2 separate regions of the Homo sapiens genome follow, and region 2 is linked to region 1. Evidence: fine-mapped expression QTL. A gene starts in region 1. The other region holds a variant in brackets. All regions are shown on one strand. Distances are from middle to middle. Region 1 holds the start of RIDA (reactive intermediate imine deaminase A). Region 2 overlaps ERICH5 (glutamate rich 5).

Evidence for each region. PIP is the estimated chance that this variant, and not a neighbour inherited with it, causes the effect.
Region 2: its variant is fine-mapped to the expression of RIDA in unexposed skin (GTEx, PIP 0.98).

Annotation. Positions count from the first base shown.
Region 1 is chr8:98,114,364-98,119,743 of GRCh38, forward strand. It overlaps RIDA (reactive intermediate imine deaminase A), which reads right to left and starts at 2,808. Exons shown (of 6, transcript NM_005836.3): 1 at 2,669-2,808. The coding sequence starts at 2,733. POP1 (POP1 ribonuclease P/MRP subunit) reads left to right here and starts at 2,930. Exons shown (of 16, transcript NM_001145860.2): 1 at 2,930-3,027. RefSeq lists enhancers at 2,913-2,962, 3,033-3,202.
Region 2 is chr8:98,090,538-98,095,917 of GRCh38, forward strand. ERICH5 (glutamate rich 5) reads left to right here. Exons shown (of 3, transcript NM_173549.3): 3 at 2,684-3,072. The coding sequence ends at 2,796. Among named protein-coding and RNA genes, the nearest start is that of RIDA, 24 kb to the right of the region's middle. The variant T/C (reference allele first, on the strand shown) is at 2,961.

The DNA of each region.
Region 1 (5,380 bases):
AGCCCAGGCTGGAGTGCAGTGGTGCGATCTTGGCTCACCGCGACCTCTGCCTTCCAGGTTCAAGCAATTCACTGCCTCAGCCTCCCGAGTAGCTGAGATTACAGGCATACGCCACTATACCCAGCTAATTTTTTTTTTTTTTTGGTATTTTTAGTAGAGACGGGGTTTCACCATCTTGGCCAGGCTGGTCTTGAACTCCTGAGCTTGTGATCCACCTGCCTCGGCCTCCCAAAGTGCTGGGATTACAGGTGTGAACCACTGTGCCTGGCCAAAATCTAATTTTTGTTGGTCACTTTTATTTAATTCCCACAATAATCTTATCAAATGGTATTATTTATGCCCATTGAGAAGACAAAGAAGCAAACTAAGAGAGGTTAAGTCACTCTGCAAGATCATATAATTAAAAAGAGGCAAAACAAAAATTCAAATCCAAAGTCCAACTCTTAATCAGTATTTCTCAAAGGAGTCAGTCATACACAGTAAGACTTATACACAGTCTTACATAGTAAGAAAATGATTCCTTTTCCAATTTTTTTTTTCAATCTACACCAGGGACAACAAAGTAAATGATTAAGACTAGGCTCTAGTACCCATTTCCTAAATTCAAATTTTGTTACATCACTTTTTAGTGGTGTAACTTTTGGCAAATTATTTAATTTTGCACACATCAGTTTCTTCATCTGAAAAATAGGGACTATAATATAACCATGCACATAAATAACTTAGAACAGTGCCTGGTGCTGGCCAGGCATGGTGGCTGACACCTGTAATCCGAGTACTTTGGGAAGCCGAGGTAGGTGGATCGCTTTAGGTCAGGAGTTCAATACCAGCCTGACCAACACAGTGAAACCCTGTCTCTACTAAAAATACAAAAATTAGCCGGGTGTGGTGGCACCTGCCTGTAATCCCAGCTACTTGGGAGGCTGAGACATGAGAATCACTTGAATCTGTGGGGTGGAGGTTGCAGTGAGCTGAGATTGCACCACTGCACTCTAGCCTGGGCAACAGAGTGAGACTCTGCCTCCAAAAAAAAAAAAAAAAAAAAAAAAAAAGGGATAGTGCCCAATGCTGCTGAGTAAGCATCAGTAAATGTTAGCAATGATGACTCTACCCCGTTTGATTACATTAAGGAGAAAAAAAATCATCTTTAGAAAACAAATTAAAACATCACTTGAAAGTTTTTAATTAAACTTTTTTTTTTTTTTAAATAGAGATGGGGGTCTCACTATGTTGCCCAGGCTGGTCTTGAACTCCTGACCTCAAGCAATCCTCTTACCTCGGCCTCCCACAGTGCTGGGATTACAGGCGTGAACCACAGTACCCGGCTAAAGAAACATCACTCTTAACAAAGAGAGAGCAGGCCTCAGGTTTTGAGCCAACTGCAATATCTAGCTAAAATTTAATAATACCTTTTTTTAATTGAGTTTATTTTTTACTATTACTTTCTATTGAATTGTTTTCTATTTAGTGTACTGTTGTAAAGTTTCCTTTTTCAATTAACTTGTTAAATAAAATGAAGTGAGCCATCTCAAAGAAATAGGTTAAGTAAATTATAAGTGATATACAGATTTGGCAAACAAACAAACAAAAAAGACAGAAGTAGCACTTGAATTATGAAAACTTTCTCCCCAAAATCTTTATACCATGCATTCTTCTACCTCCATGCCCTCACTCAAGCCATTCCCTCTACCTGACTTCTACCTCCATGCCCTTCACTCAATGACTTCCTGTTGAAATCCTTAATAAATTAATTTAAAAATCAAACTTTACAACACTACTATAAATGACAAAACCAACCTTCAAAACCAAAGGACTACCTCTCACAAGGAACCTTCCTAAATCTTCTTTTTCCTCTTCCACCCCAAGTTAAAATCAATTTGTCTTTTTTCTCCTTTACTCCCTACCCCACTTGCCCTCTCACTTCTACTGCATTTTATTTATTTCCAAGTTTTCTATAATAATTCCTGTTCTGCCACATCTCAGTGCCTTTTCTCACAGCAGTAGGTTTAAAGGAGGGAGCTGTTGATGGGGCTCTTTTCAGTTGGGAGAGAGGCAGACCAAGTATGAAGCTAATGAAAGAAGTTGGTCATAAAGGACTGCATGTTTTATGATTCAATTTATAGGAAATGTCCACAACAAGCAAATCCATGAAGATGCAAGTAGATTGTCAGGGGCCGGGGGAGAGGAGAATGGGGAGTGAATGCTAATGGGGATGGGATTTATTTTTGGGGTGATGAAAATGTTCTGAAGAAAGTGGTGATGGCTGCACAACTCTGTGAGTATGGTCAAAACCACTGAATTGTACATGTTAAAGGGGGTGAATCTTACGGTACGTGAATTATATCTCAATAAAGCTGTTACCAAGAAAACAAAAACGACCCCCTCCCCCAAAACAAAACACAGGGTCTGAAGGCTTCTAACTGGGGAGAGCTTTCTGGCAGGCTGTGCTCCGCAGCGAGGCAGCCCCAGAACGAGCAAAGTCCCATGGAGTGCAGGTTCCTGGTCCCATCGTGGCTCCCAACTCTCTGTGGGTCTTCGGGCGCGTTGCTTACTTTCCAGGCTCAATTTCCTTGCGTGTTAGCTGGGGCTCCGGCCCGGAGTGGCCCCAACCCCGAATCCCCGAACCCGCACGCCCTGGGTCCGACACAGCTTCCACCAGCCACGTTACCTGTAGGGTCCAATGGCCCCTGGGGCTTTCGCGGTGCTGATCACCCTTCTGATCAAGGACGACATGGCTAAGCCTTCCCTCTTGCAGCCCCTTCAGGAGAAGAAGCCCCAGCACCAGCCCTGCTGGCTTCTTACTGGACTGACCAACCACAGCAGCGCCTCTGCCCCACAGCTCCCGCTGGGGGCGGGCTCGTGCGGCATTCTGGGAACTGTAGTTTCGGCGACGCTCCAGGCCACGTGGAGGAAGCGCCCGGTCTGGCGCATGCGCTCTCCAGCGCGCTCTCCAGGAGCTTTGGCTCGGTGGGTACTGTCGCGGAGGCTTGTCATTCTGACCCGGGGATTCCTCACAGCGTCTGGCAGGTTGGTCGTGAGGGGCTGGTGCCTTCCAGGATGCGAGTGTCGGGGGAACTGTATGCGGCGGCCCCCCTCCCGGCGCCCGTCTCCCCTCTTCATCGTTTCTCTCTCAGACTCCGCTGACCTCTTTCCTTGCTGCCTGTGCCCGGGGCCCCTCTCCCTGGTGTCGCATCTCCTTCGGCCCCTGCGCTGGAGCCCCCTACGTCAGTCATTTCCCTTCATTGCCCCGCCGGGTGGAGGCCGTCCTGGGAATGGGCTTGCATCCCCTCTTCTGCAACCCCAAATGACTAATATGGGTCATTCTGGCGACCACGCTGAGATCTGGGCGTTGGTCCTCCCGTGTTCCCTTTCCTGCTCCTCCTGTGTTCCCTTCTCTAGGGTGCTCCTCGGGCTTTACAAGGTCACTGTCTGAACAGAGCCCTAGTGATTGGGATATCATTTCAGAAAGAAAGATGGTGATCTGGAATGGCCCAGATCCCTTGTAAGTATTCTGCTGTGTCAGAAGGGGTGGTACTTGGCTAAATATTTCTTATCCTGTTAATATTTGCATTGTAAGTACGCTTCGTTTCTTCATTTATGCGGGCACTCATAGATATATGAGTCCCTACTTTGTGTAAGGCACTCTGCTAGATGCTAGGAGGAATGCAACAGTTAAAAAAAATAATAATAAAATCTCTGCCTTCCCTGCTTCCTAAAGATAATACAAGAAAATCTGCTTTATTCCCTCTCATTTTGTCCTACATACTGCTAAGGTTTTGGCCTTCCTACTTCCGGCTCAGGAACCTTCTGATCTTTTTCATTGGTTTGGGGCCTGGAATAAAAGACCTTTCAGTCTGGCCTCCCCTTGCCTATTCAAGTTTCATTGTCATCTACTCCCTTTTCCCACTAGAGTCCTCCTGTATTCACACTGTGGATTCCTGAATACTCTTTCTTCCTTATCTGTGCAAATTCCAGCTAACTGAAATTCTATTTTCTCTTTGACTTTTCCTACCAATTCACATTTTTTTCTTTTTCTTCTTTCCTTCCTTTCCTTTTCTTTTTCTTTGTTTTCTTTCTTTCAAGACAGGATCTCACTCTGTCACCCTGGCTGGAGTACAGTGGCATGATCTTGGCTCACTGAAACCTTGACCTCCTGGGCTGAAGCAATCCTCCAGCCTGAGCATCTCAAGTAGTTGGGATTACAAGTGCACACCAGCACGCCCGGCTAATTTTTGTATTTTCTGTGGAGACGGGGCTTCTTCATATTGGCCAGGCTGGTCTCCAACTCTTGGGCTCAAGCAATTCTCCCACCTCAGCCTCCCAAAGTGCAGGGATTACAGGTGTAACCATTATGCCCGGCCTCATTTTTTTTCTTTCCCTTGTCCTGTTTCCTATTGTGCTGTACCGCATAATTTAGTATTTTATTATATGAGATCCTATTTTCTAATTGTTATGTGTTTCAAGAATAGTGGATTGGAGAGGGAAGGGGTGGAAAAAAAAAAAAGAATAGTGGATAGAGTCAGACTGCCTGGTTTGAATCTCAGCACAATCACAAGCTTAGTAGCCTTGGACTGGTATATAAAATCTCTGTGCTTCGATTTCTTCATTTATAAGATGAGAATAATACTAGTGACCACAGAGTTGTGAGAATTAAATGAATAAGTCATGTAGAATAGTGCCTGCCACATCAAGTTCTCAATGCTGCCTAAGATGACAAAATTCTTATTCTACTTTGGAATTATACACAGCCTGAAACTATTGGGCACATAGTAGGTGCCCAAAAGTTTATTAAATCTGATTAAACTAGATAATTAAGACATATTTTTATTTACAAAATAATTCACCATTTAAGTTTTTAAATAAGAAGCTATTTTGGAGCATTACAAATGATTCAACTTGTGTAAAATATTTCTTGTGAAACAAGGTACCTTTATTCTTAAGACAGATTTTATATCAAGTCTGAATCACCAACTTTTTAGATCTGGAAGAAAATAGACATCATCTAGTTAGTTCCCAGGTTCTCAAACTGGGAACTAACTAACACCAAAGGTTGTGTCTGGCCAGAGGATACTAAGCTGTATCAGAAAACATAACGTATCCATTTTATTTGAAGATTTGGCGAAAATATTTTTATAAAGGCAGCACATATTTAGTGCTTATTAAAGTTTGACAAAACTGACTTGAAGGTGAAGGTAAGAGTTAAGATTCCTTCTGGAAACTTTTTTTTTTGAGACAGGGTCTTGCTCTGTCACCCAGGCTGGAGTGCAGTAATGTGATCAAGGCTCACTCACTGCAGCCTTGACCTCCCTGTCTCAAGCGATCTTCCCACTTCAGCCTCCCGAGTAGGTGGGACCACAAGCTCATAACTATGCCTAGCTTA
Region 2 (5,380 bases), 24 kb before region 1:
GGATAGCTTGAGCCCAGCAGTTCATGACCTGCCTGGGCAACATAGTGAGACCTTGTTCTCCAGAAAAAAAAAAAAAAAGAAAGAAAAAAGGAAAAAGAAAATGACTGTCAGTCTGCTCTTGTTCTTCTGCAGTTTTAAAATCTGTATGAGAAGACCAGAGAAAATGTACTATGTCTTAGCATATGGTGTTTTAAAATTTTAACTGTATTTTACCAGCATAAAACAAATGATGTTTACAGTGTTCTTTATTGGTGTTATAATTTAAAAAAATATTTTCTTCTGGGGTATGATTTACATTTTGGTAAATTTTAGCTTCACAGTTCAGTATACTTAAGTGAAGCATTCATTATAATCATCCATCTGTTTTTGTTTAATTCTTTCATTTATTTATTTTATTTAATTAATTTATTTATTTTTTGAGATGGAGTCTTGCTCTGTTGCCCAGGCTGGAGTGCAGTGAAGTGATCTCGGCTCACTGCAACCTCCACCTTCTGCGTTCAAGCGATTCTCCCGCCTCAGCCTCCTGAGTAGCTGGGACTACAGGCGCACACCACCATGCCCGGCTAGTTTTTGTATTTTTAGTAGAGACGGGGTTTCACCACATTGGCCAGGCTGGTCTCCAGCTCCTGACCTCATGATCCACCCGCCTCGGCCTCCCAAAGTGCCGGGATTACAGGCATGAGCCACCATGTCTGGCCAATTCTTTCATTTATTAACTCAGCATTTTTTGGCATGCCTAAACATATGCTAGGTGCTGAGATGCAGACTGAGGAAGAGATAGTCTCTGTCCTCAAGGGGCTCACTGTCTAGTGTGGGAAGGCAGGATGTGCGTGCATCACCATAGTCTGTTGTGGGAACTGCTTTCCTAAGAATGTGTAAGAAGGGCCCTGGGAACAACTTGGGAGAGGCAAATAAAAGCAGGTAGTTTTTACATCAGGATTGGCAAACTCAAAAGTCTTTAGGCCTAGGATACTGAAAATGAGTGAGGTGAAGGACACATGTCATACTGTGGGAGCCCAGGGGACCTTGGCAAACAGGAGAGCACAGCCTTGTCAAAAGAGGAAGCTCCGCACAGCTCCAGCCATGGAACTAGGGCCAATGTTGCCAAAGCCAACTTCTCAGGGAAACAGGGTTTCCTGCAAGTGTGTGCAATGTCCAGACTTGTTAGTGTTGGCTGTCTGTAAATGTTTAACGATTGTTTTTAAACACATAATGGCCAAGCCAGACAGGTTTAGGGGCACCCCTGGACCACCCTTTGATTTAGATACAAATTAGACTTTCTTTTTCTTTCTTTTTCTTTTTCTTTCTTTCTTTCTTTCTTTCTTTCTTTCTTTCTTTCTTTCTTTCTTTCTTTCTTTCTTTCCTTTCTTTCTTTCTTTCTTCCTTTCTTTCTTTCTTCCTTTCTTTCTTTCTTCTTTCTTTCTTTTTTCTTTCTTTTTCTTCTCTCTCTCTCTCCCCTTCCTTCCTTCCTTCCTTCCTTCCTTCCTTTCGAGACAAGATCTTCAAGCTGGAGTGCAGTGATGCAATCACAGCTCACTATAATCTCCAACTCCTGGACTGAAGGGATCCTCTTGCCCCAGCTCTCAAGTAGCTAGGACTACAGGAATGTGCCACCATGCCTGGCTAATTTTTTTTTCTTTTAAAAAATTATTACTTTTGAGACAGAGTCTTGCTCTGTTACTCAGGCTGGAGTGCAGTGGTATTCTTAGCTCATTGTAACTTCTGCCTCCCAGCTCAATCCATTCTCCCTCCTCGGCCTCCTGAGTAGCTGGGCGCCACCATCCCTGGTTAATTTTTGTATTTTTTGTAGAAACAAGGTTTTACCATGTTGGCCAGGCCGGTCTCAGACCCTAGGCTCAAGCAATCTGCCTGCCTCAGCTTTCCAAATTGCTGGGATTATAGGCGTGAGCCACCACGCCCAGCTGTCCAGCTAATTTTTGAAAAATATTTTGTAAAGACAGGAGGTCTTGTTGCCCAGGCTGGTCTTGAACTCCTGGCCTCAAGTGATCCTCTTGCCTCAGCTTGCCAAAGCATTGGGATTACAGGTGGGAACCATCACACCTGGCCATGAACTTTCTATTATAATCTGTTCTACCACCATTTCTTTGGTAATTTTGCATCCTGATTTTATAGAGAGCATTTCTTTCATAAGAGTATGCCAAGACTCGAGATGTTAATTGACTCGACATTTCAGCCATTCAGAGGCTCTGAGAGAATCGAGATGATTACTTTTCTTTTCCTTTTTTTTTTTTTTTTGAGACAGAGTCTCGTTCTGTCGCCCAGACTGGAGTGCAGTGGCGTGATCTCAGCTCACTGCAACTTCTGCCTCCCGGCTTCAAGTGATTCTCTTGCCTCAGCCCCCCGAGTAGCTGGGATTACAGGCTTGTGCCACCATGCCTAGCTAATTTTTGTATTTTTAGTAGAGACGGGGTTTCATTACTTTGGGCTAGGCTCCTGAACTCCTGACCTCAGGCAATCCGCCTTCCTTGGCCTCCCAATGTGTTGGATTACAGGTGTTAGCCACGGTGCCCAGCTGAGATGATTACTTTTCTTGATACCCCCAGAGAAACTTACTGCTTAGACCTGAAGATCAAGAACTGCCCCCATTGGAGACAAACTGTGGGATAATTTATGTTAATTCTAAATAAATGTCTCTTAGTATCTCCTTTGGTTACTTTTCCAGGTGAGACAGGGGAAAAGGTGGAAACAGACATGGAGAATGAGAAAGTGAGTGAAGGGGCTGAAACCAAAGAAGAAGAAACAGGAGAAGTGGTGGACCTTTCAGCAGCCACATAGATAGAAGAGTGAACCGACACAGTGTGTTATCATAGAGGAGACAAAAATGGTAGTGAAGCTTGTGGTTATGTATCTTATCTTTCTACATTTACATGTTTTCTGTAAGGAGTGTGGTTATAGAGAGACTGTTGGAACCATGAGAAGGATGTTTCTGTGTTCTTGAT[T/C]ATATTGTTCTGCAAAACTGCTAAGCCATGAACAGTTTTCTTAGCTACTTAGAATGGTTATACATTTAAAAGTATAAAAACCAAAGCCAATAAAAATGATGTGATTATTTAAGAGTGTGAGGGTGACTTTCTTCATTGTGGCCATGGGGCCATTCAGTATAGAAAATGAGACCCTAAAAAGAAAGTGTAAACCTTTAGGTACAAGTGGCTAGAGAAAGGAGTTAGCAAATTTTAGGGAACTCACAATAATAAAGTCACACAATTATAATCATGATGGAATGAGAATGAACAACAGCAAAAATAATAGGATGAACTATACCAAATATTTCTGTCTTGTTATAGAATTCAGAGCTGATAAGAACCTTAGGAAGTATGTCATCTACACATTTGCTCTCCTTTAAGCTTGTCAACTACCACAGATCCTTATTTATCATGGAATATTAAATATGTTAACAGAATCCTTTGCAAAGGATTGCAACTCTGGTGCTATCACAAGGTTAGACATTTTTCATGATGAAAGGCTACACATTTTCCATGTGCCATTTCGAATCAGCTGTTGATTTTATACTCACATGAGGTTTTTCAATTGGTGTTATCCTTTTGAATAACATTAAAAGTATTTTTAATTAATTCACTTTTAAATGTATTTTGGAGACAATAAACAGCAAGGATTAAAACCTAGATTGTTGCTTATGTAGAGTCTATTCCTGGGCTCTACTCTTTTTTTCTTTTTTTTTTGGACATGGAGTCTTGCTCCGTCACCTAGGCTGGCGTGCAGTGGTGCGATCTCGGCTCACTGCAACCTCTGCCTCCTGGGATCAAACAATTCTCCTGCCTTAGCCTCCCGAGTAGCTAGGATTACAGGTGCTTGCTACCATGCCCAGATAATTTTTGTATTTTTGGTACAGATGGGAATTCACTATGCTGGCCAGGCAGGTCTTGAACTCCTGACCTTGTGATCCGCCTCCCAAAGTGCTGGGATTACATGTGTGAGCCATTGCACCTGGCCACTCTATTCTTTTTTAGATGACTGCAATTTAATGGTAGGCTTTAGTGATGGAAAAAGGCTAAGAAATCAAGATTTTAGAAGCATTTATGAGATTTCTTTAGTGATGCACCACAGAGTCAGTTTTTGAGAATTCTTCTGAAGTTGGCAAGGGATTTTGGCAAATGATTGTATGTGAATAATAAAAATAATAGCTAACTTGCCTACCAGTGAGTGTCTTGTGTGTTTGAGTATCAGAATAGAATTCTGGAAACATTTTGTTTATTTATCTTGTTTGTAAATAGGTATTTTTCTTTTTTAAAAAAATTCCTACTATTTCCTAAGTAAATATGTATTTTTAAGGTAACTGCTCAGATGAATTAACTAGTCTCTTTATTTTTATTTTTTATTTTTTGAGACAGGGTCTTGCTCTGTTGCCCAGGCTGCAGTGTAGTGGTGTGATCATGGCTGACTGCAAACTTGACTTCCTGGGCTCAAGCAATCCTCCCACCTCACCTCTCCTGAGTAGCTGGGACTACAGGCATGTGCCACCATGCCGGGCTAATTTTTGTATTTTTAGTAGAGACAGGGTTTCACCATGTTGCCCAGGCTGGTCTCGAACTCTTGAGCTCAAGCAATTCACCTGTCTCAGTCTCCCAAAGTGCTGGGACTACAGGCGTGAGCCACCCGGCCTAACTAGTCTCTTACTTTAGCTTCTACATTAAAATAACTACTAAGATGGCCTATAATTAATTATAAGAATATAGGATACAGGGAAAAACATATTCTCTTGATTCTGATTTTAATATTAATTTATGTTCTGACTGTAAAGTGCCGAGGAAGACAATAAAAGGAGTTCCCTGAGGAGATGACATCATCCTTTCTGCAAAGTAAAGGCACTGGATTGTGATTGCATTGAAGGCAAGCACTGTGTTTTATGTATTTTTGAATTCAGGCATTTAGCTCCTTTAATGGAATGTGGTACATACTTGATAAATATTTGTTGAATCAGTAAATGAATAACAAATACCAAGGAGTCCCATTTATACTTAATTCATTAAAAAATAATACATATAAAATATAAATTTGGCTGGGCATGGTGGCTCACGCCTGTAATCCCAGCACTTTGGGAGGCCAAGGCGGTGGATCTCTTGAGTCCAGGAGTTCAAGACCAGCCTGGGCAACACGGTGAGACCCCATCTCTACAAAAAATATAAAAAATTAGCTGGGCATGATGCCATGTGCCTGTAGTCCCAGCTACTCAGGAGGCTGAGACTCAAATCTTTTATTTTCATAAAATTTTGGAAATTTATAAAAATTTCTGGTACTTTCTCTACTTTTGTCTTTATTCTTTAATGTGGTAACTAAAACACTTTTGGAAACTTTTTTTTATTCTTTTAGATAATATTCAGTTTTAACATTAAAAACCTATAAG